4 linked regions of the Homo sapiens genome follow. The protein of the gene in region 4 binds, or shares a complex with, the protein of the main gene of each other region. Each region holds a gene or a part of one and is shown on either strand. Other genes may lie near its edges.

Region 1 (7,039 bases), on a different chromosome or scaffold from region 4:
GCCACCACGCCCAGCTAATTTTTTGTATTTTTAGTAGAGACGGGGTTTCACCGTGTTAGCCAGGATGGTCTCGATCTCCTGACCTCGTGATCCGCCCACCTCGGCCTCGCAAAGTGCTGGGATTACAGGTGTGAGCCACCGCGCCCGTCCTGATTTTTTGCACTATTTACACCTCAATCTGTTGGGCACCCCCACGATTATATCCGTAAGAGGGGGAATAAAGGGAGGAGGTCAAGCCTGAAATGTGAATCTAAATCTGGCTGATCCCAAAGCCCTGCTCATAATCACTTTTCCCTTCTGTATGAAGCTAGGATAAAGACTTATTTTATATTCAGTTTCCTTCAGGTTGATGCACATTAACAGGACTCTGACCTTGTCCTCTGTTGTGCTCCCCTAGTTCTTCCAGAAGGCAGCACTGAACGTGCGAGACAATGTTGGGGAGGAGGTGGACGCAGAGCAGCTGATCCAGGAAGCCTGTCGGAGCTGCCTGGAGCAGGTGAGACCAAAGGGGACAAGAGATGCAGGCACAAGGTTTAGCTCTCGAGCCTCTGATAAGAAATGCGATCTTAAGCCGGACGTGGTGGCTCACACATGTAATCCCAGCACTGTGGGAGGCCAAGGTGGGCAGATCACTCAAGGCCAGGAGTTTGAGACCAGCTTGGGCAACGTGGCTAAACCCCATCTCTACAAACAATACGAAAATTAGCTGGGCATGGTGGTGCACGCCTATAATCCTAGCTGCTTGGGAGCCATAGGCACGAGAATCGCTTGAACCTGGGAGACAGAGGTTGCGGTGAGCCGAGATGGCACCACTACACTCCAGCCTGGGTGAAAGAGCAAGATTCTGTCTCAAAAACAAACAAAAAAAGAAATGTGATCTTGTCATCAGTGGTATTTTGGGGAATGCCCAGCAAGCCACATATTGAGATAGGCTTGAGGCTGTTGCTGACAGGGAAAGGAAGGGAAGTAGCTACTATATGTCAGGTACCAGGATAAATGCATTATTTTTTTTTATGTCTCAGAAGAAACTATGTACAGAAGATATCTTTTAATTACTATTTTATAGATGAAGAAATTGTGACTTAGCAAACTCATAGAAGCAGAGAGTAGAATGGCAGTAGCTGGAGGGGAGAAGTGGGGGGATGTTAATCAAAGGGTACAAACTTTTAGTTATAAGATGAACAAGTTCTGGGCAATCTGATGTACAGCATGATGACTATAGTTTATCTCTATTGTTTACTTGAAATTTGCTAAGACCATAGATCTTAAGTGTCCACACACAAAATGGTAGTGGTGGATGTGTTGATTGATTTCATTGTGGTAATCATTTCACTATGTATATCTATGTCAATTCATCACATTGTACACCTTGAATATATACCATTTCTGTTTATCAATTATACATCAATAGAGCTAGAAAAAAATTTTTAAAAGCAAAGCAAAAAAAAAAAAAGAAATGGCTTAAGACACATAATAATTAGAATAGCTAAGATCTGTCTCACCCCTGCAGGTGCGTGGTGGATCAAGTTATCATGGCCCCATTTGGTATCATGGGGATGAGCACCCTGCTGCCTCCCTGCCTCTCTGGTGTGGTCAGGAAGCATGACATCAGGTCTATAAATGACTGTTCCCAAGATAGTAGAGAACCTGTTTACATGTGTCAGCTGCTGTTATTAGGAGGAATTGTTGCCATCACCATTTTATAGGGAGACATCAGGAAAGGTCGCCAATAGTCGCTGGCTCACTTTCTCACCTCCTATTCATTCTCTTCACTTTGTTTTCGCTTCAGTCCCCACTACTTCACTGGAACCCCTCTTGTCGGGGTCGCTAGTAACTTCCGTGTTGTCAAACCCTCTGGTCCCTAACTGTCCTCAACTTACTCAGCTTCTCAGTGACATCTGTCACAATGGATCATTTCGCGTTTCTTGGAATGCTCCTCTGTTGGCTAGAGTGCCTTGACTTTGCTCCAACCTCATTGCCTACTCTTCTCTCTCACCCCCCGCCTCTAACTGTTGGTGCCTTCCCAAGTTCAGTCCTCAAACCCCTTCTCTTTCATGGCTCACTGTTTTCATAGGTGTTTTCATCTAGTCCTGTGGCTTGGAAGCCAATTCAGCCGCTCATAATTCACACATTTATATCTCAGTCCAGAGTTACATTCACCGTTACCCAGTTCCAATCCACTCTTCTCACAGCAGCCAGACTGATCTCCGTAAAGATGAATTAGATCATGTCACTCCCCATTTTAAAAACCCTTCAGTGACTTTCCTGTTGCAGGGAGAATAAAGTCTTAATGCCTTACCATGATCCTGCTGGGAAAACTGGCTAGCCATATGTAGAAAGCCGAAACTGGATCCCTTCCTTACACCTTATACAAAAATTAATTCAAGATGGATTAAAGACTTAAATGTTAGACCTAAAACCATAAAAACCCTAGAAGAAAACCTAGGCAATACCATTCAGGACATAGGCATGGGCAAGGACTTCATGACTAAAACACCAAAAGGAATGGCAACAAAAGCCAAAATTGACAAATGGGATCTAATTAAACTAAAGAGCTTCTGCACAGCAAAAGAAATGACCATCAGAGTGAACAGGCAACCTACAGAATGGGAGAAAATTTTTGCAATCTACTCATCTGACAAAGGGCTAATACCCAGAATCTACAATGAACTCTAACAAATTTACAAGAAAAAAACAAGCAACCCCATCAACAAGTGGCCAAAGGACATGAACAGACACTCCTCAAAAGAAGACATTTATGCAGCCAAAAGACACATGAAAAAATGCTCATCATCACTGGCCATCAGAGAAATGCAAATCAAAACCACAATGAGATACCATCTTACACCAGTTAGAATGGTGATCATTAAAAAGTCAGGAAACAACAGGTGCTGGAGAGGATGTGGAGAAATAGGAACACTTTTACACTGTTGGTGGGACCGTAAACTAGTTCAACCATTGTGGAAGTCAGTGTGGCGATTCCTCAGGGATCTAGAACTAGAAATACCATTTGACCCAGCCATCCCATTACTGGGTATATACCCAAAGGAATATAAATCATGCTGCTATAAAGACACATGCACACATATGTTTATTGTGGCACTATTCACAATAGCAAAGACTTGGAACCAACCCAAATGTCCAACAATGATAGACTGGATTAAGAAAATGTGGCACATATATACCATGGAATACTATGCAGCCATAAAAAGTGATGAGTTCATGTCCTTTTTAGGGACATGGATGAAGCTGGAAACCATCATTCTCAGCAAACTATCACAAGGACAAAAAACCAAACACCGCATGTTCTCACTCATGGGTGGGAATTGAACAATGAGAACACATGGACACAGGAAAGGGAACATCAGACACCGGGGCCTGTCGTGGGGTTGGGGGAGGGGGGAGGGATAGCATTAGGAGATATACCTAATGTTAAATGACGAGTTACTGGGTGCAGCACACCAACAAGGCACATGTATACATATGTAACAAACCTGCATGTTGTGCACATGTACCCTAAAACTTAAAGTATAATTTAAAAAAAAATGCCTTACCATGACCCACAGAGCCTACCCTCGACTGGCTTCTGCCTGCTTCTTTAACTTCATTTCATCTCACCTCTTTTTTATTGACTATACTCTGGCTGTTCTGAACTCCTTTCTGCTCCTCCAGCACAAGCTTAGGCCATTTCACTTGCTGTTCTTAGTACCTGGGGTACTCTACCCTTAACTCTATAAAGCCGGCTCCTTCTTTTCTTCAGATCTTAGTTTAAATATCAGAGAGGTCTTCCCCTCGCACTCCTACCTCTGCTAAAATCTTGAGCTTTACAAGAGTTGAGGCCTAATCTTGTTCACCACTGTATTCCCAGCCCTGGAATATGACTCTTAGTATGTGTACAGAGTTTGCTGAATTATTGAGTAAATGAAGGAACAAACAAATGATAAATGAACAAACAAGCTTCCTGCTCTAATAGAACTTAACAGCCTACTTAAGCAGACAGGTGTGAATTAGATTACCAACAAATGTGTGCATAATTACACATTGAGACTTGATCACCCTTCACTGGAAAGGGACAAAGTTTGGAGGAGAAGAGCATGAATCCAATTATGGATTAGCAGCTTTGAGCCATCCAAGCATAGACATGGGGCAGACTATTTGGTATATAAGTCTAGAGCTCAGAGGATAACCTTTTGTCTACAGTTGAATTATGGAATCGTGGTTTATAGATGTTAATTGAAGCTGTGAGAATAGGTGAGAGCAGATAGAATATGTAATGAGAGAGGATAGGGAAAAGAACCAGATTGAGAAGGAAAAGCCAGCAAAGAAGGCTAAGAAAGAACGGCCAGAGAAGTAGAAGGAACACAGGAAGTGTGGCCACAGGAGCCTGTAGAAAAGAGTGTTTCCAGAAGGGGGAGCCCTCAGCACTGTCAAATGCCACTGGCAGAGGTCGGGTGAACCCAATTCTCCACCTGCTGCACCATCTCCCCTCTGCCCATTCCATCCTTTTCTTTGTCAAATGAGCCAGGTGTTCCCACCTTTGAGCTTCTGCACTCCTCCCTGCTGCTGAAACACTTCTGCCCAGCTTTTTTTACAGCCTCCTTCACATCTCAACTCAGAGGCCACCTTCTGAGCAAGGCCTTCCCTGGCCATTCCCGCAAAGTAGCCCTTCCCCTCTGGTGGTTCTCTGTCACATCTGCCTGGGTTTTTTTCTTTTTTTCTCACAGCATCTATCATGATCCACAGTTACCTTGTTTGTTTCTGTGCTTATTATCCAGATCACCCACAAACTATAAGCTCCACAAGAGCTTGTCCTAGTTACTGCTGTGTCCACAGCACTTAGGTCCCAGGTACTCAGTATTTATTAAAAGAAAAACAGCAGGCCAGGCGCACTGGCTCACGCCTGTAATCCCAACACTTTGGGAGGCTGAGGCGGGCAGATCACGAGGTCAGAAGTGTGAGACTAGCCTAGCCAACGTGATAAAACCCCATCTCTACTAAAAATACCAAAAAAAAAAAAAAAAAAAATTAGCTGGGTGTGGTTGCACGCCTGTAATCCCAGCTACTCAGGAGGCAGAGGCAGGAGAATTGCTTGAACCTGGGAGGCGGAGATTGCAGACAGCCGAGATCGCACCACTGTACTCCAGTCTGGGCAACAGAGCAAGATTCCATGTCAAAAAAAAAAAGAAAAAAGAAAAACAGCAGCTTACTGAGGAGTATGTGTTATACTAATGTATTTAGTTTGAAAAAACATACAGTATGTATTTACATGGGAAAAGCAAGGAAGAATTTACATTGAAACATTAATAGTAGTTTATGTAATGAGATTCCAGGTTTTTCTTATTTTGCTTTTTTACATTTTTTAATTTTTCCAGCCATGATCATTAATTCAAGTTTTTTTAAAAATAGATATCTATTTCTATGCATATAAATATATATATGTGTGTGGCTGGGCGTGGTGGCTCATGCCTGTAATCGCAGCACTTTGGGAGGCCAAGGCAGGTGGATCACCTGAGGTTAAGAGTTCGAGACCAGCCTGGCCAACATGGTGAAACCCCGTTTCTAATAAAAATACAAAAATTAGCTGGGCATGGTGGTGGGCACCTGTAATCTCAGCTGCCTGGGAGGCTGAGGCAGGAGAATCGCTTGAACCCAGGAGGCGGAGGTTGCAGTGAGCTGAGATAGCACCACTGCACTCCAGCCTGGGCGACAAGAGTGAAACTCCATCTCAATTTAAAAAAAAAAAAAAAATATATATATATATATATATATATATATATATATATATATATATATATATATATATATATATTTGGAAGTGGGCCGATCACTTGAGGTCAGGAGTTCAAGACCAGCCTGTCCAACATGGTGAAATCCCGTCTCTTCCAAAAATACAAAAATTAGCTGGGTATGGTGGCGCACCCCTGTAGTCCCAGCTACTTTGGAGGCTGAGGCATGAGAATCACTTGAACCCAGGAGATGGAGGTTGCAGAGAGCCAAGATGGTGCTGCTGCACTCCAGCCTGAGCAACAGAGCAAGACTCTGTCTCCAAAAAAAAAAAAGGAAGTAGGTAGGGTGTGCTTACCCACCAAAATAGTGACTGGTAACACTTGGTCTTTTTCCCTTCAGGCTAAACTGCTCTTTTCAGATGGAGAAAAAGTAATACCCAGATTGACCCATGAGCTTCCAGGAATAAAGGTCAGAGTCACTGTGTTCTCGGGTATTGGAGCGGGAGGTCCTTCAGGCTGGGAGGCAAGTGAAATATGTGGGCCCAGGGAGGTTCCATGTACTTCCATTTGTAGGACCAGGCCCACACAGCATCATGCTGGATGGGCTTCTTTGGCCTGGGTCAGAGCGGGGCTGGAGAGCTGTAGTCCAGGGCTGTCTTCTGCAACTCCAGAAGACCTGCAGCTCCCAGGCACTGGCCTTCCACTGACTCCCTTCCCTTTTCTTTTAGCGTGGCCGTCAGGCAGAAGAAGAATGTGCCCATCGAGGAAGCCCCCTTCCTAAAAAGGTAAACCATTTCCTTGTTTTGTTTTCTGGCTGAAAAAAGGCTTGTCAGGCCGGGTGTGGTGGCTCACACCTGTAATCCCAACACTTTGGGAGGCCAAGCGGGGAGGATCACTTGAGCTCAGGAGTTTTGAGACCAGTCTGGGTAACATAGTGAGACCCTGTCTCTAAAATAAAAAAAAAATTAGCCAGGCATGCTGGCACATTTCTGTCGTCCTAGCTACATGAGAGGCTGCAGTGGGAGGATCACCTGAGCCCAGGAGTTCAAGGCTGTAGTGAGCTATGATCATGCCACTGCACTCCAGGCTGAGTAACAGAGTAAGACCCTGTCTCTCAAAAAAGGCTCTTCACTCCGCAAGGTACTGGGCTTCCTCAAAGCCCTTTTGAGCCTTCCTAGACATGAGAGGCAGTTTTTCTCCCTGTCCCTGTCAAACATCATTTGATCTCTTTGGAAAACCATCTCTGCCAAGTGACCCTGGACCTGCCAATGGGGTATGGGGAGTAACCACAGGGTCAGACCTCTGACAGCTGT
Region 2 (7,000 bases), on a different chromosome or scaffold from region 4:
AGTGGTAGCGGGTGCCTGTTGTCCCAGCTACTCGGGAGGCTGAGGCAGGAGAATGGTGTGAACCCAGGAGGTAGAGCTTGCAGCAAGCCGAGATCACTCCACTGCACTCCAGCCTGGGCGACAGAGCGAGACTCCATCTCCAAAAAAAAAAAAGTCCATTTTGGCTGGGCGTGGTGGTTCATGCCTGTAATCCCAGCACTTTGGGAGGCTGACGCAGGCAGATCACTGGAGGCCAGGAGTTTGAGACCGCCTTGCCAACATGGTGAAAACCCGTCTCTACTAAAAATACAAAAATTAGCCGGGCATGGTGGTGGGCACCTGTAATCCCAGGTACTCAGGAGGCTGAGGCATGAGAATCACTTGAACCTGGGAGGTAGAGTTTGCAGTGAGCTGAGATAGTGCCAATGCACTCCAGTCTGGGCGACAGAGCAAGACTCTGTCCTAAAAAAAAAAAAAAAAAAAAAAAAGCGCATTTTGTTTTTTTGTTTATATATAATGGGTTTATTACTGCCCTTTTAAAATCAATTAATAAACATTTTGAAAGTTGATTAGTTTAAACTTCTAATACAGCAAATGCCAGTAGATAAAGTTTACATAAACAAAAATTCTCTACAGCCTTCAATAATTTTTAAGTGCAAAGGGGTCTTAAGAGCAAAAGTTTTAAATTAGCTGGGCGTGGTGGTGCACGCCTGCAGTCCCAGCTACTTGGGAGGCTGAGGCAGGAGAATTGCTTGAACCCAGGAGGCAGAGGTTGCAGTGAGCCGAGATCGCACCACTGCACTCCAGCCTGGGAAACAGAGAGAGACTCCATCTCAAAAAGAAAAAAAAAAAAAAAGTTTGAGAACTACTATTCCAATAAGAAAAAGTCCTGCATGTCCACATACACATGTGCCCAAGCAGACACGCATCTAAAAGAAAGAAACCCGAAACTGAAAATTCCAAAGTGGTGGCCGGCAGGCATATTTTATAAGTTCCCTATGCTGTCTTTTTTTTTTTTGAGACGGAGTCTCGCTCTGTTGCCCAGGTTGGAGTGCAGTGGTGCAATCTCGGCTCACCACAACCTCCGCCTCCCAGGTTCAAGCGATTCTCATGCTTCAGCCTTCCCAGTAGCTGGGACTACAGGCGCCTGCCACCACATCCAACTAATTTTTTGTATTTTTAGTAGAGACAGGGTTTTACTATATTGGCCAGGCTGGTCTCAAACTCCTCAGCCGCCTCGGCCTCCCAAAGTGCTGGGATTACAGGCATGAGCCACTGCGCCCAGCCTACGCTGTCTTATTTAATTCTTAAATTATCAAATGTGTTGCTAGCATTTAAAAATCAGAAGGTTTCACCTAAGGATAGTTTTCTGGCCTCTTCTCAAAGAAATCGAAAGTTCTGGCAACACTGGCCTGGCATTTCCACTGCCTGGCATCACTTAGATGGGACATACAATCTTTGCTTCACGACAATCCTTACTTCTTCCCTTTACCTGTGCCTTACCTGTAAGTATCTGAGTTGCCACCCTGAGCTAGGGAAGGAAAAACGTTTTTTGCAATAAACATCAATAAAGAAACACACATCAATCTATGTCTGCACTCCTCCTAACAGGTCAACATGCACAATAAATAGCCCTTTTCCCTGTTTGACTTCTCCAAAGCAGTAACTTGTATGATTACCATTAGTACGGACTTTGGTATTGCTTAGAAACCCTCTTGAGAAAGAACGAGATCTATCCAACAAAGCAGGTGTCTTTGGCTCAGTGCAAAGGAAGGAAACTCACCAGAAGAGCAAGTTAGTGAATCTCCAGGGAACAGGAGGACCCAGTTTAGGCCCCACAGGGAGGGGGTTCAGGTGACAAGCAGACCACTGGATATGTCCTCCTGGAACACTGAGTGGTAAATGCAGGATACTCCCAATTTCTTTTGCCCTGAAAGCAGGTGGTGGGAAGGAAGAAGCAGTCAGGACTTGGGTCCCAAAGAAACAAGAACAGAGATGTGAAAATGGAGAAGAGCAACAATTTTTGGAAGAAGGCAGAAAGCAGTATCAACAGCGGAGATTTGAGTGAGGAGGAAAGGTTTTTTTGGTAAGAAGAAATAATTGTTCCTTCTTTCCTTATTTTTCCCCCGTGGGAAGAGACCTAGAGAATTTTACCGGGAGAAACTTAATTAGGGCAGAATTGGTGATAAAATAAGGATATTTGCTGGAAAGTTGGGGGTAGGTGAGGAGGACTGGAAACATAAATATTAGACGAGAGAGAAACTGGAAGGAATTAGTTGGTTTGTTCTAAGCGAAGATATTCCAAAAAGGGGCACTCTAGGTGTGAAGAAAAAAATTTTGCTGGAAAGTGATCCTGAACGGATGAAAAAAAACTGGGTTAATTTTTTTTCTTTTTTTGCGCTAAGGGAAGTTACTTAAAGGAGGGGGAGGGGCATGTCAAGGAAAGGAGGAGAGATTTGGAGTTTTGCTGGAAGATCCTAAAAAGGGATAAATCTGGGTGCCCCAAAGTGGGACTATGGAGGAGGAAGGGGGATTCTGAGCAGAAGGGGCCTGGAAGAGGCTAGCGAATGCAAGGCCCAGATGCAGAAGGTGGGGAGGTCGGGTAGGGCCCGCGGCGCGAGCTGGGGGGCTGCGAGGGGGCAGTTGAGGCCCGGGGGGACGGAGTGGGAAAGAAAAGGGGGTGCAGCGGGCCAGGGGATCCTGAGGAGGGTCTTCTCCAAGGGGGAAGGGCCTGTGGGGTGCAGCGGGGCCCGGAGCTGTTGGGTTGCAGAAGATGCGTGCGTGACGCAGGGTGAGGGGCGCCCGCCGCGCCTGCTGCGCCCCTCGAAAGGCAGATGGGGCCCCCTAAAAAAAGAAATCAAGAAACGAATGAGATTGTAAAAAGGGGGAGGGGTTGAAAAAAGAGGAAATAATAGTAATGGGGGATAAGGAGGAAAGGGAGGGGCAGGGGCAGCAGCAACCGGGTTTTACCCGCCCCCGGGGGCTCGCGCGCCGGGCCTCGCGCCTGGCGCCTCGCGGGGCTCCCAGCGGCCTCCCGCCTTCCCCGCGCCGCCCGGGGCGCACGCGCAGCCCGGCCCACCCCCGGATCTCCTCGCTCACGCGCGGCGCAGGCGCGCGTACGTGACCGCGGGCCGCCTCACGCCTCCCAGAGCGGCCTCGCGCGTGCCTCCTGGCCGCGCGCTCTCGGCTGCTTCTCCGAGGGGCGGGGCTTGCCGCGGGCGGGAAAGGAGGCGGTTGGTCGCCATTTTGGGAGGGGGCGGTTGAGGGCGGAGAGTGAGAAGAGTGAGCCGGGGAGGAGCGGCGGGGGGAGGGGCCAGTCCCCCAAGACCCGCATCCCGAGGCCGAGAGTCCCGGGAGCCTCCACTCCAGCCATTGTTCCTGGTGGGCGGTGTTAGAACGCGGTGGCGGCCGCTGGATGGCTGCCCCCAGTCCCCGGAGGGGCCTCTGAGCAGCGTCCTGGTGCTGGGAGGCCGTATCGTCTGTTTCCGAGGACCCTGTCGCGAGCGCGGGAGTCTCTCAGGGTCTCTTCTGCGTCATTGGGTGGGGGAGATGTGGGGCGAGCTGCTCCTCCCTTTTTTTAAAATTTTTTTCAGAGACAGGGTCTCTCCCTGTTCCCCAGGCTGCGATCACGGCTGCCGCACCCTCCCCTTCCTGGGCTCAGGCGATCCTCCTGCCTCAGTCTCTTGAGTAGCAGCGACCACAGGCGGGCGCCGCCACACCTTGCTAATTTTTACATTTTTTTTAGAGATAAGGTCTCGCCATGTTGCCCAGGCTAGCCTGGTTCCCCTGGGCTCAAGCGATCCTCCTGCCTCAGTCTCCCAAAGCATTGGGATTATAGGTGAGAGCCACCGCGCCCAGCCTATTCCTCCCTTCTTTGGGGAAAGGCTGAGCCATCTGGGGCCCCTGCTCCGTGCTGAGCTGTGTTGGGAAGGGCGGTAGGCCCTGGTGCCGACTGGCCAAGGACCATCTTTTTTTTCTTTTTTTTTTTTTTTGAGACAGGGTCTTGTTCTGCCGCCCAGGCTGGAGTTCAGTGGTGCGATCTCGGCTCACTGCAATCTCCGCCTCCCGGGTTAAAGCGATTCTCCTGTCTCAGCCTCCCGAGTAGCTGGGATTACAGGCACGTGCCACCACGCCCGGCTAATTTGTTGTATTTTCAGTAGAGACGGGGTTTCACCATGTTGGCCAGGCTGGTCTTAAATTCCTGACCTCGGGTGATCAGGTGATCCGCCTGCTTCTGCCTCCCAAAGTGCTGGGATTACAGACCTGAGCCACCGTGCCCGACCTGGCCAAGGGGTTTGAACTGTCCTGCAACTGAGGCAGATAATTCATTCCTTAGAAACGGAGTGCTGAAGATCTGTGGAGAATGAGAGCAGATTAGTGGTTGCCCGGGGTGGAAAGGGGCATCGCGGATCTTATCTGGGTAATGGAAATATTCTAAAACTGAGCTATGGGCCAGGCGTGGTGGCTCACGCCTGTAATCCCAGCTCTTTGGGAGGCCAAGGTAGGAGGATCCCTTGAGCCTAGGAGTTTGAGACCAACCTGGGCAACCTAGTGAAACCCTGTCTCTAAAAAAAAAAAAAAAAAAAAATTAACTGGAGATGGTGGCATGCGCCTGTAGTCCCAGCTACTTGGGAGGCTGAGGCAGGAGGATCGCTTGAGCCTGGGAGTCCAAGGCTGCAGTGAGCTATATGATCAGGCCATTGCACCCCAGACTGGGGGATAGAGCGAGACTCTGATGGGGGAAAAAAAGGGTTATGGTGATGGTTGCACAACTCAGTAAATTTCTAAAAATCAGTAAGTATACACTTAAGTGAGTGACTTTTATGTAAATTATACCTCAAAGTTTTTTTTTTTTTTAATTGATTATTGGGGGAGGAAACAGAGGAAAGAAGAGGGCCTGTCATCTTGCTTTAGGATCCCTTCATTTAGCAAGTTTTTATTGGGTCTCTGTTCTAGGTGCTCAGATATAGTGTCTGGGTCAAACAGACATTCCTCTCCTCCTGGAACTTATGTTTTAGAGCAGTGCTGTTCAGTAGTAATAAAATGCAAACTTCAAGCACCAGCCACTTATGTAATTTTACATTTTCTAGTAGCCATGTTTAAAAGGAACAAAATGTAAAGAAGGCAGGTGTGGCGGCTGGCACTTGTAGCCCAGCTACTTGTGAGGCTGAGACAGGAGGATCACTTGAACCCAAGAGTTGGAGACTGCAGTGAGCTATGGCCCTGTCTGTGTAGAGCCACTGCACCAGCCTGGGCAACATAGTGGGACCCATTCTCTTAAAAAAAAAAAAAAATGGCTTGGGACGGGTGTGGTGGTTCACACCTGTAATCTCAACACTTTGAGAGGCTGAGGCAGGAGGATTGCTTGAGTTCAGGAGGTCAAGACCAGCCTGGGCAACACACCCAAACCTAAAAATCAAATAAATAAAAGTAAATAATAAAATAAAAGAGAAAGAAACACAAGTGAAATTAATTTGGTAATATTTAATCCCAAATATTTCAACACATTATCAGTATAAAAACTAAGAGATAATTTACACTTTTGGGGCTGTCTTTAAAACCCCACATATACAGTATTTTACATTCACGGGACATCTCAATTCAGACCAGCCACATTTCCAGGGCTCCATGGAACCTTGTAGCGAGTGGCTCTGGTACTGACAGCATACCTCTACAGGGGGACAAGCAAATGCATTTACTTTTTTTGTTGTATTTTTTTGATACAGGGTCTCACTATGTCACCTAGGCTGAAGTGCATTGTTGTAATCATGCCTCGCTGCATCCTTGACTTCCTGGGCCCAAGCTATTATACCACCTCAGCCTCCTGAGTAGCTGGTACTACAGGCCTGCACCACCACACCCAGCTAATTTTTTGTATTTTTAGTAGAGACAGGGTTTTGCCATGTTGGCCAGGCTGGTTTTGAACTCCTAGGCTCAAGCAGTCTTCCTGCCTTGGCCTCCCAACATGCTGGGATTACAGGAGTGAGCCACCGTGCCTGGCTGCAAATACATTTATAATGCAGTATGTTATACCTTGAAGAAAAACAAAGGAAAGAGGATGGGGTCAGAGGGTATTGTTTTATACAGGTCAGTAAAGGCTTCTCTGGTGAGATTGCATTGAGCAGAGATCTGAAGGAAGTAAGGAAGGGTCCTATGAAAATATCTGGGGGAAGAAGAGAGGGAACAGCACGTGCACAGGCACTGAGGCAGGAAGATGTGGAACCCTTTTGAAAGACAGCAGAGAGGCCAGGCATGGTGGCTTATGCTTGTAATCCCAGCAATTTGGGGGGCCCAGGTAGGCTGATCACTTGAGCCCAGGAGTTCGAGACCAGCCTGGCCAACATGTTGAAACCCCATCTCTACTAAAAATACAAAAAATTATCTGGGCATGGTGGTGCACACCTGTAGTCCCAGCTACTCGGGAGGCTGAGGCATGAGAATCTCTTGAACCTGGGAGGCAGCGGTTGCAGTGAGCCGAGATCACGCCATTGTGCTCCATCCTTGGTAACAGAGTGAGACTCTGTCTCAAAAAAAAAAAAAAAATCAGAAGAAGAGAGACCAGTGTGGCCAGAACCACGTGAGTGAAGAAACTAGGGGCAGATGGCATAGGGACTTACAGGTCATGCTAAGGCAGGAATTAAACTCCTGGAAACAATTTCAGAGGGTTCTTCCTTTATTTAGCACACTTTTTGTTTTGTGGGGTTTTTTGTTTGTTTCTTTTATTTTCTTTCTTTTTTTCTTTTTTCTTTTTCTTCTTTTTTTTCTTTTGAGACAGAGTCGCGCTCTGTAACCCAGGCTGGAGTGCAGTGGCACCATCTCGGCTCAATGCAACCTCTGTCTCCTGGGTTCAAGTGATTCTCCTGCCTCAGCCTTCTAAGTACCTGGGATTACAGGCTCGTGCCACCACGCCCAGCTAATTTTTTGTATTTTTAGTAGAGACGGGGTTCCACCATGTTAGCCAGGATGGTCTCCATCTCCTGACCTCGTGATCCACCCGCCTCAGCTCCCAAAGTGCTAGGAT
Region 3 (6,508 bases), on a different chromosome or scaffold from region 4:
CAGAATCAGAGAATGGAGGGGAGGAAGTGACCCATCTATCAGTCCTCTTTCTTGTATCAGTCTGTATCTGCTACAATATTTATCATACTACTGACTGGAATGTAAACTCTTCTAGAGAAAGGTTCATGTTTGTGGCTACTACAGTATTTAGCATTGTTCTTCACATAGACAGATAATGGGCAACTTCTTCTGTCAGGCACTGTGCTAAGCACTTAACATGTTTTATCTCAGTGTATCTTCACCAACTAGCATCACTACTCTAAACACCCAGATTCAAAAACCTGAAGTCATCTTCTACTCCTCTCAAATCTGCCCAGGTTTGTCTAACTCTTAACCAAAATCCTCTATTAACTTCTTATATTTACAATAATAAATGTAGAATACATACACAGGGCCTAACGTAGGATAAGTGCTGAATGAATGTTAACTATGCTTTTATTACATGCATCATCATGCCCATTTCCCTCTCCTTTCATAAATAGGAAACTAGCAAGAATTAACATTCCTAGAAAGGCGAAAGGTACAAAAAATACCGACTTAGTTTATTGGATAAAAACAGTGGTAAAATGGACATAAAGCCAAAAGTGAGAACAGAACATTTTCATATCCTCCCCACACTTGAAAACATACTTCCCATCATCTGGGATTCAGGTGTTAGGGAGCCAGAGCCCCTTCCAAATCTCTCTCTCTTCATCTTCCCTGGAAGCAAGGGGAGGAAGAAGTCAGAACCCAGGGGAGGAGGAAGTCAGAGGCAATCTCAGTCCTTGTCTACCCGTTCATCCCTCAAAAATCTCTGGGTTCGAGGGAAGCAGGGAAGAAATAAGGGGCAAGGGGGGCTAGGGACTGGCCTCCAGGGCCCACTGCCAATAATGTCCCAGATAGCTATCCTTGTCTGTATCTCATCCCTAATAGGTACCATTGTCAGGCCTTGGGAGAGAGAGGAAAAGCAGGTAGATGGTTCGAGAACCAAATGTGGTCTCCAGACTCTTTCCCAGAGTCAGCAAAAGCCCTGGGGTGACCCCCAGGACTCTAGGAGCCACTCCTTTTCCCTCCAGCCCAACCAAGAGGTGAAAAGAAATTCCTTGGGACACAGCATCCCAAGCCACTCTTAAATCTCCACATCGCTTTCCTTGTCATTGTCATGGTCTCCATCATAGAACTCATTGGGTGCCTCTGGCCTGCAAAGCAAGGGGAGAGAGGTCAGGATCTCACTCTAAGTTCTAATCTTCTCCCAGCACCCTTTTCCAAAGCCATTTCTCAGGCCCCGTTGAGAACCACTCCTCCTCTTGTTGGTAGAGACTGCTATTCATTCACCCATTCACGTATCAAATAAACATTAAGGAACTACTCTATACAGACACTGTCATAAACCTTAGCAATACAGTAGAGTAACAAGCTGGACAAGGTTGTCTATCCTCAAAAAGCTTACCTAATAAATGAGACTAGTAACTAACAAAGTAAATAAATATAATAATTTCAGATGATGGAGAGTACAATTAATAAAATGAAGTGATAGGACTGAAGGTGATGAGAGGAAAAGGGTGAAATTTCAGACAGGACTATTGGGACATAAGACCTAAAGTCTGAGGAGGAGCTAAGCAGGCAAAGACTTCAGGAAGGCCATTCCAAGCTGCAAGAAAACCAACTACAGAGGTCATGAAATGGAAAGAGACTGATGTATTCCAGTAAGAACAAGGAGGCCAGGACAGCCGGGAGCACTGTGCATGGAGGAGAGTAGTTAGAGATGAGATCCTGGATGTAGGTAAGGGCTAGCATGCAGGACCTTTTTAAGCCACAGTCAAAATTTTGGATTTTCTTCTAAGTGCAAGGTAAAGGAGAGTTTTAATTTTAAGAAGAGTGACGTGGTATTATAAACCCATAGTGAAAGAATGGATGTGAAAGCAAAACAGGGCCCAACAGGTACTCAATATTGGTTTCTTTCTTTTTGAAAAAGTATTCTCAAAAGCCGGGCGTGGTAGCTCACACCTGTAATCCCAGCACTTTGGGAGGCCAAGGCAGGTGGATCACAAGGTCAAGAGATCAAGACCATCCTGGCCAACATGGTGAAACCCCGTCTCTACTAAAAATACTAAAGTTAGCCGGGTGTGGTGGCACATGCCTGTAATCTCAGCTACTGAGGAGGCTGAGGCAGGAGAATCGCTTGAACCTGGGAGGCGGAGGTTGCAGTGAGCCGGGATTAGCCACTGCACTCCAGCCTGGCAACAGAGTGAGACTCCATCTCAAAAAAAAAAAAGAAAGAAAAGAAAAAGTATTCTCTGGGACACAGAGAATTGAGAAAGTCATCAAAGAGAAGCTGAGGCACTAAGCCAGGAAAGGCCTTATCTGCATGGTGAGCAATGTCTCAGTTACTTCTAAGTGCACAGGGTTAAAGGTGTGGAGTCAGAGAATCAGGTTGAATCTCAGCCCTGATCTTTAACTAGCCATGTGACCTTCAGAAAGTTACTTAAGTCTCGCCGGGGGCGGTGGCTCACACCTGTAGCCTGTAATCCTAGCACTTTGGGAGGCCGAGGCAGGCAGATCACCTGAGGTCAGGAGTTCGAGACCAGCCTGACTAACATGGAGAAACCCCATCTCTTCTAAAAATACAAAAAAAATTAGCCAGGCGTGGAGGCTCATGCCTGTAATCCAGCTACTTGGGAGGCTAAGGCAGGAGAATCGCTTGAACCCGGGAGGCAGAGGTTGTGGTGAGCTGAGATCATGCCATTGCACTCCAGCCTGGGCAAAAAGAGCGAAACTCCGTCTCAAAAAAAAGAAAGAAAGAAAGTTACTTAGACTCTCTGAGCCTTAGATTCCTCCCGTGTTAATCTGAAAATAAGAGCCATCAGAGTTGTCTGATGGCAACAGAATGATCATATATATGTTGTAATAGATAGCACTTAGTAGTGTCTGGTGCTTGGCAAACCTACAAAAAGTGGTAACTCTTCCTATTTCTACTCTGCAAGTCATATGCAAGCTGGAGCTATAGGCATCAAAGAAGAACAGAAACTCAGTGGGTGGCCTGACAGAGAGGTAGGGCTTAGGAACAGGAAGAGGCCTGAGGCTTCTGCTGGCTGTGACAGGGCTTGGTATTATTATAATGCAGAGACTAGGTCCAGATGCCAGCCTGGAGCTATTGATAAAAAACCCAAAAGGAAGAACTTAAAAACAGGTTTTACCAAACCAAACCAGACAATGAAAAGCAATTTCCAATAGTCCTGGAAGCCCTGAAGCCAGACACTTCCAGATGTTCAGACACTTCCTCACTCAGAAGGGATCGGGGGATATCCTTGGAGGAAGAGAGTTGCAGAGATCCCCAAGAGTCAGAGCAGTAAAGCCCAGGTCCAGAGGAGAGATTCGGAGGCCTGAATTCTAAGACAGAAGCAGATTCTAGAAGGGGCTGAGAAGCCCATCAGGCTCTGCAGCAGAGCCGGCTCAAACCTCTAACCCTGCGTGGGAGCAAGACAGCGTGTCCCACAAGTGTCCAGCTGTGGTTATCCCTCAGTCATGTAAGGAAATCTGTTCCCCATTAAGTGCATCTGTTTCTGCACTTCTTGGTTCTGTTGTCTTTCCCTTTCATTTTTCAGCAAAGTTTTGGGATTAAAAAAAAATTCCATCCTATCCTTTTTCCCCCCTAATTCATTCCATCTACAAATATTTTGTATGTATCTCAGAAAGATAAAGACTTTTAAAAAAAAAAAAAAAACATAACCACAATGCAATTATCCCACCCGAAAAAATTAACAGAGCAAAGAAATCAAAGAGCCTTAGAGAGTATTACGCAGGCAGTGACCTGTCCAGCTCAAGACCTGGAAAGACTGAGAAAAATGCTGGCAAGACTATAGGGTGCTACAGACTTTCTGGACGGCAATTTGGCAGCAAATATAAAAAATTTTAGGCCAGGCTCAGTGGCTCACGCCTATAATCCCAGCACTTTGGAAGGCTGGGGCAGGAGGACATTTGAGCCCAGGAGTTTGAGACCAGCCTGGGCAACAAGGCAAGACTCCGTCTCTACCAAAAAAAAAAAAAAAAAAAAAAAAAAAAAAAAAAATTAGCCAGGTGTCGTGGTGCACACCTATGATTCCAGCTACTCGAGGGGCTGAGGCAGGAGGATCGCTTGAACCCAGGAGTTCAAGATTGCAGTGAGCTATAATCATGCCACTGTACTCCAGCCTGGGTGACAGAATGAGACCCTGTCTCAAAAAAAAAAAAAAAAAAAAAATTAATGCACACAGCCTTTGACCTAGCAGCAACCATTCTACTATCTAACCCACTCAAACAAGAATGCAAAGATGTATAATGTAAGGGGGTTCATTGCCACATTATTATTGTAATACCAAAAAAATGGAAAATAATCTATCCACATAGTAAATTATTATACAGCTGATAAAATACTGAAGCAGATCTATATTAGCTAGCTGAAAACAGCTATATGATGTAAAGCAGCATACGTAGAATGACCCTATTTGTATTTACGAAAAACCAAAAACCACACAAACTGTAAATGAGTGTATATGTGTTTGTTTATATGTACATACAGAATAGTATATTTGCAATCTATAGAAAAAGGTCTATCCAAAACAATAAAAACTATTAACAGTGGTTACTCCTGTGGAATAGGTCTGGGATTGTGTGAACGCCAACACCATATTTTGGTGCTGTTTTAAAATTTTGCAATAAATACGTGTTACTTTTGTCATTAAAAATAACAAAGAAAAGAGTGAGGAAATTGTAGCAGACTAAAGGAGGTAAGCCAGAGGCAATTAAACTAATACCTTCCCATTTACTTTTTCCCTTTTAAACCTCCCCAGCAAGCCTATTGAAAGTAGGCTGAAGTCCCTGCTCCCAGACCTGCTATAGTTCTCCTCAGGACCCCTCTCCTCTGCATCAGCCTCATCAGTCCTGTCATAGGTCAGGAGGTCTGCAGGCACGTCATGAATCTGGACACTAGGTGCATGGTTCAGCATCTTCAGGTTTTCAAAGATTGTCTGGCGGATCTGGTCCAGATACTGGTTGGAAATGAGGAATACAGAGTGAGCAGTTTCCAGAGATTCCCAGGACATGGAATCTCCTAGCTGCCTTTTACCCCTACCATACTGGTTTTCATCTCAGTGGTACCTCTAGTTCAGGTCCCCCAACTGATAGCTCTCCCTCCCCACCAACCCCAACTGCCTCTACTTTAAACTGGACTGCCTCCTAGTCAATAACAGTGACTGTGATGGCTTAGAACTTCCTTCTCTTTGGTTTTTCCTACTTCCCACATCTTTGACCTCTCCTGGGCTCCACCTTTCAGGAGAAGTTTGTGCTCAGCTTTTCTGAGCTGCTGACCTGGCGTGAGTTCTGATTCTCGATGCGGGTGCTGACATCTGGATGAAGTGTGAAGTCTGGGGCAAAGTACTCGAAGTATTCTTGGGGAGGAGAGGAGAAAGTATGGCTCAGACTGAGAAAGGCAGCTAACAAGACTTCCCAATCTTTTTCCTTCCCATCCAGAGCACCTACATAATAGCTGCCCAATCTCTTCCCTGCTCTGAGCCCAGGGGTTTAGTCTGCAGAGCTCTGAGAGTGTAAAATTTCCCATGTGCCTTCAAACCAGGTCATTCTGGAATCTGGTGAGAATGGCCTTCCTGTTATGGGGGTGTTGTGGGGTGGTCCTTACCACTATAGGGAAGCTCCTCACTAATGGCCTCTTCTACCAGCAGCGATGTCTCATATGTCCTGAAACCAACCAGCAGAGGGGAGCAGGCTGACCAAGTGGGCTGAAGGACCCATGTGGCCATATCTGAGGGACACCCTAGCTCACACTGGACAACAGGGGAGGAAATCAGGAGAGTGCTCACCAGCAGCGGGCAACATTTCGGACAGTATAACCACCACCACCCAGCACGAGTAGAGGGATATTGAAGCTCTTGACATATTCAACGCATTCCCTGTTAAAAGGAACCAGAGGAAGATGTGGAGGAGGTTATCAAAAGACAAGGTAAATACCTTTAGGTATTGCCTGAAAGGAGCACAAGAAAACTATAAATGTTCTAAATCTTTATCTTGATAGTGAAATTCATTATGTTATACCCTTAAGATTTGGGTATACTTTATATGCTGTGTCTCAATAAAAATTTTAAAATAAAGCACAGTCCCCCCTCTGTTCTGCTCAACACCCTCCCTGGCACCCTGCCTGCTAATCAACTATTCTCATCAACCCAAGTTCTGTCAATTCTAGCCTTGAAAATATAACTCACGCCCGGCGCGGTGCTCACGCCTTTGTAGTAGTCCCAGCTACTCAGGAGGCTGAGGCAGGAGAAATGCTTGAACCCAGGAGGCAGAGCTTGCACTGAGCCAAGATCGTGCCACTGCACTCCAGCCTGGGTGACAGAGCAAGACTCCATCTCAAAAAAGAAAAAAAAAAACATATATATGTGTGTGTGTGTGTGTATATATATATATATACACACACACACACACACACCTCTCAGATCATCTACTTCTCTCCATTGCCACCCCCTCCACCTTAGTC
Region 4 (3,230 bases):
GCTGGAGTGCAGTGGCGTGATCTTGGCTCACTGCAACCTCCGCTCCTGGGTTCAAGCAATTCTCCCACCTCAGCCTCCTGAGTAGCTGGGACTACAGGTGCGCACCACCATGCCTGGCTTTTTTTTTTTTTTTTTTTTTTGAGACGGAGTCTCACTCTGTCGCCCATGCTGGAGTGCAGTGGCGTAATCTTGGCTCACTGCAACCTCCACCTCCCAGGTTCAAGCGTTTCTCCTGCCTCAGCCTCCCGAATAGCTAGAACTACACTGCATGCCACCATGCCCAGCTAATTTTTTGTATTTTTAGTAGACACGGGGTTTCACCATGTTGGCTAGGCTGGTCTCGAAACTCCTGACCTCAGGTGATCCGCCCGCCTGGGCCTCCCAAAGTGCTGTGATTACAGGCGTAAAGCCACCGTGCCTGGCCCCGTTGGACTGTTTTAAGTTTGAGGTAATTTGTATACCTGCACAGAAAACTAATATTATCCAAATGTAAACAGCTTATTCTATAGAACAAAACACCTAAAGGGGGCTTAAAAGTCTTAAAGATTTATTAATCCTTAATTTATACTAATGAATTTGAATAATTATTACAATTCACTTCAAGCAAATTCAAATCCTAGAATAACAAATTTGAATTGAAAAAAGTAAATTATACCCATTCAATGTACTGTCATTCTTTTAATGATGTTTCAGAACAAAGAAAATGTCACAGAGTTATATGCGGTTTTTATCTGGTATGGGGAACAAGAAACAGTTACCAACAGAAAATATTTCCACAGCCCCAAAATAGCTTACTTACAAATATTTGCAAAATTCATTCTTATAGTACTCATGTAGTTTTGTACTTGAATTGACAGTCTAGAGATGAAAAATTAAAATTGAGCTTTTTTATTAGAAAGACAACAGTACATAATTTACCCCTTGCTAAAGGTATTCAATAAAAAAGTGGAGATATTTTTATTCCCAGGTAATTGTCACATACAGTCTTTCTTCTCTACTTCTGCTTCATTCTCTTTGTGTCACTTTAGTATGTGTACCTCCTGGGTGCTCTCTGTACATTTTTTCTCCTCTATACAAGTCTGTGCCATGGCTTCTGCTGTCATTTCTTCTGCTTTGCTCTTCACCAGGATTTCGCTGTGCCCGTTTCCTTGTCTCCCTTTGCTTGTAACTACCAGGACTTCTGCTCCGGCTTCTCCGGCTCCTTTCCTCCCTGCCGTGGCTTCTGCTGCTCCCCTCCTTTCTTTCAGAGCCTCTCTTCTCTGGGCTATGTTTATGGGTTCTGGACTTTTTGTCAGAATCAGAATGGCTCCATTTGCTGTCCTCCCTAGAACTCTCGTGTTTTAAGAACCTGGGCTTTTCCTTGGCTTTTTCCCGGTTATGGTGACTGCTAGAAAGTTCTTCATGAAGCTTTCTCTTCTTAGACTTGTCCTTCTCTTCAGAATCACTGTTGTTATGCCCTGAACACTTGTTTTTCTTTCTTTTCTTCCTTTGTATTTTTTTTTCTTTATTGTTACTCTCACTCTCACTACTGCTTTCTGAAGTCTCAGTAGAGGAAGAGGAGGAGGAGGAGGAAGATGAGGAAGAAGAGGACTTATGTTTTTTGTGTTTACTTCTGCTCTTCTGAAACTTTTTCTTTTTTCTATCTTTTTTCTTTTTTTTCTTCTCCAGTCGATCTAATTTCCTGTAATTGGGAAATAAACAGTAACAGACTGTGTGAAAAACAGTTATTTCATCAACTGTAAGTTATGAACAAACAATATATTTTCTTAGAAGTTATTAAAAATAGTATCCATGGCAGAGCGCGCTGGCTCATACCTGTAATCCCAGCACTTTGGGAGGCCACGGCGGGCGGATCACAAGGTCAGGAGTTCGAGACCAGCCTGACCAACATGGTGAAACCCCATCTCTAGTAAAAATACAAAAATTAGCTGGGCATGGTGGCACCTGCCTGTAATCCCAGCTACTCAGGAGGCTGAGGCAGAAGAATCGCTTGAACCCGGGAGGCGGAGGTTGCAGTGAGTCAAAATCATGCCACTGCACTCCAGCTTGGGCAAAAGAGTGAGACTCTGTCTTAAAAAAAAAAAAAAAAAAAAAAAGAACTGGTATCCATATATGAACGCATTGTTTACTAAATGACAACTCATTTTCTTCCTTTAAAATTATTCAAAGCGTGAATACATTAAATTAAAAAATTAAATGCATCAAGCCAATTTTCTGACTATACTTCAATAGTAATGACTACTTTTTTGTTAAATTCTTACTGAGTTGAAATTATATAGCACTCTAAAGGGTCATCCTAAAGAAAGCCTGTGAAAGGTGTGTAACATCAGTTGGAACTACTAAAAAAGCAAATATATAGCTATAATCAGATGAAAAATTAATTTTATGTACTATTTTATAGTATATAAATATTAATCAACGTTATCAAAATTCAAGAGAATATTCTCCAGAAATTCTGAGTAAGAGTACACATTAAACTTCTGAAATATTGGTTTTATAAAATAATATAGTTAATACTTGTTTTCAACAATTGTTTAGTTTTATAAATAGGACAATCCTATTAAAACATTCTGAATTTCTAGAGTACTTCACATTCTTGGAGGAGTAACTTGTTTATATGGTATGTTTGAGTTACTCTGAAAATAAGTCTCTAGGTTCTGTCTAGCCATTCTCAAAACTCTACATACTGAAAGCATCATGAGCTCCCTCTATTGGACCCAGCAGACATTTCTTGGATTCTTTTAATTCAGAGGTAGTCTGTTTAACAAAATTCACGTTTACCTTAAATTTAAGCATTCTTTCTGCATTCTCATAAAATTTTACAAAACATTTTAAAAATGGCCAAAAATGTTTCCTAAGAACAAATTGTGTGCGAAGATACACACAAATCTATTTTGAAAAGTAAAAGCTATAAATAAGTCTAATTCTAAATTAAACATTCTGAAAAGTGCAATCGTTTTGTGGTACAATCTGAGTATACAATCTTACACTCATTTCCATGTTACTGAAAAGACAGACAAAATTGTATTAGCTATGGGTGAAGAATAATCAATAAATGTGATGCATGGTATAAGGACCTTCATGAGCTCTTAGGATCAGAGTTGAATACGATACTGAGATGAATACTAAGGAAAAAATAAATCTATTAAATATATACTTCTAAATTACCTGAGAAGTTTCTGTTTTTGTTTGGTTGTTAGTGACTTTAAAAATTCAACTTCTGGATCTTC

The links.
Region 1: CIRSR (region 4) and DNTTIP1 share a complex: the UniProt entries of both Homo sapiens proteins name them as parts of the histone deacetylase complex.
Region 2: CIRSR (region 4) and ZNF541 share a complex: the UniProt entries of both Homo sapiens proteins name them as parts of the histone deacetylase complex.
Region 3: CIRSR (region 4) and HDAC3 share a complex: the UniProt entries of both Homo sapiens proteins name them as parts of the notch corepressor complex.

What each region holds. Positions count from the first base shown.
Region 1 is NC_000020.11:45,794,948-45,801,986, forward strand, and holds part of DNTTIP1 (deoxynucleotidyltransferase terminal-interacting protein 1), read left to right. Parts: intron 1-397; coding exon 398-496; intron 497-6,126; coding exon 6,127-6,195; intron 6,196-6,454; coding exon 6,455-6,511; intron 6,512-7,039. UniProt on the Homo sapiens protein: Increases DNTT terminal deoxynucleotidyltransferase activity (in vitro). Also acts as a transcriptional regulator, binding to the consensus sequence 5'-GNTGCATG-3' following an AT-tract.
Region 2 is NC_000019.10:47,570,134-47,577,133, forward strand, and holds the start of ZNF541 (zinc finger protein 541), read right to left. Parts: upstream 3,016-7,000; 5' UTR 2,950-3,015; intron 2,900-2,949; exon of another isoform or gene 1,910-2,899; 5' UTR 1,763-1,909; intron 1-1,762. UniProt on the Homo sapiens protein: Transcription regulator which is essential for male fertility and for the completion of meiotic prophase in spermatocytes.
Region 3 is NC_000005.10:141,620,360-141,626,867, forward strand, and holds the end of HDAC3 (histone deacetylase 3), read right to left. Parts: intron 5,925-6,508; coding exon 5,835-5,924; intron 5,713-5,834; coding exon 5,654-5,712; intron 5,406-5,653; coding exon 5,326-5,405; intron 5,007-5,325; coding exon 4,849-5,006; coding exon of another isoform or gene 4,761-4,848; exon of another isoform or gene 4,503-4,760; intron 1,179-4,502; coding exon 1,109-1,178; 3' UTR 522-1,108; downstream 1-521. UniProt on the Homo sapiens protein: Histone deacetylase that catalyzes the deacetylation of lysine residues on the N-terminal part of the core histones (H2A, H2B, H3 and H4), and some other non-histone substrates.
Region 4 is NC_000002.12:174,347,492-174,350,721, forward strand, and holds the end of CIRSR (corepressor interacting with RBPJ 1), read right to left. Parts: coding exon 3,169-3,230; intron 1,682-3,168; coding exon 1,006-1,681; 3' UTR 531-1,005; downstream 1-530. UniProt on the Homo sapiens protein: May modulate splice site selection during alternative splicing of pre-mRNAs. Regulates transcription and acts as corepressor for RBPJ. Recruits RBPJ to the Sin3-histone deacetylase complex (HDAC). Required for RBPJ-mediated repression of transcription.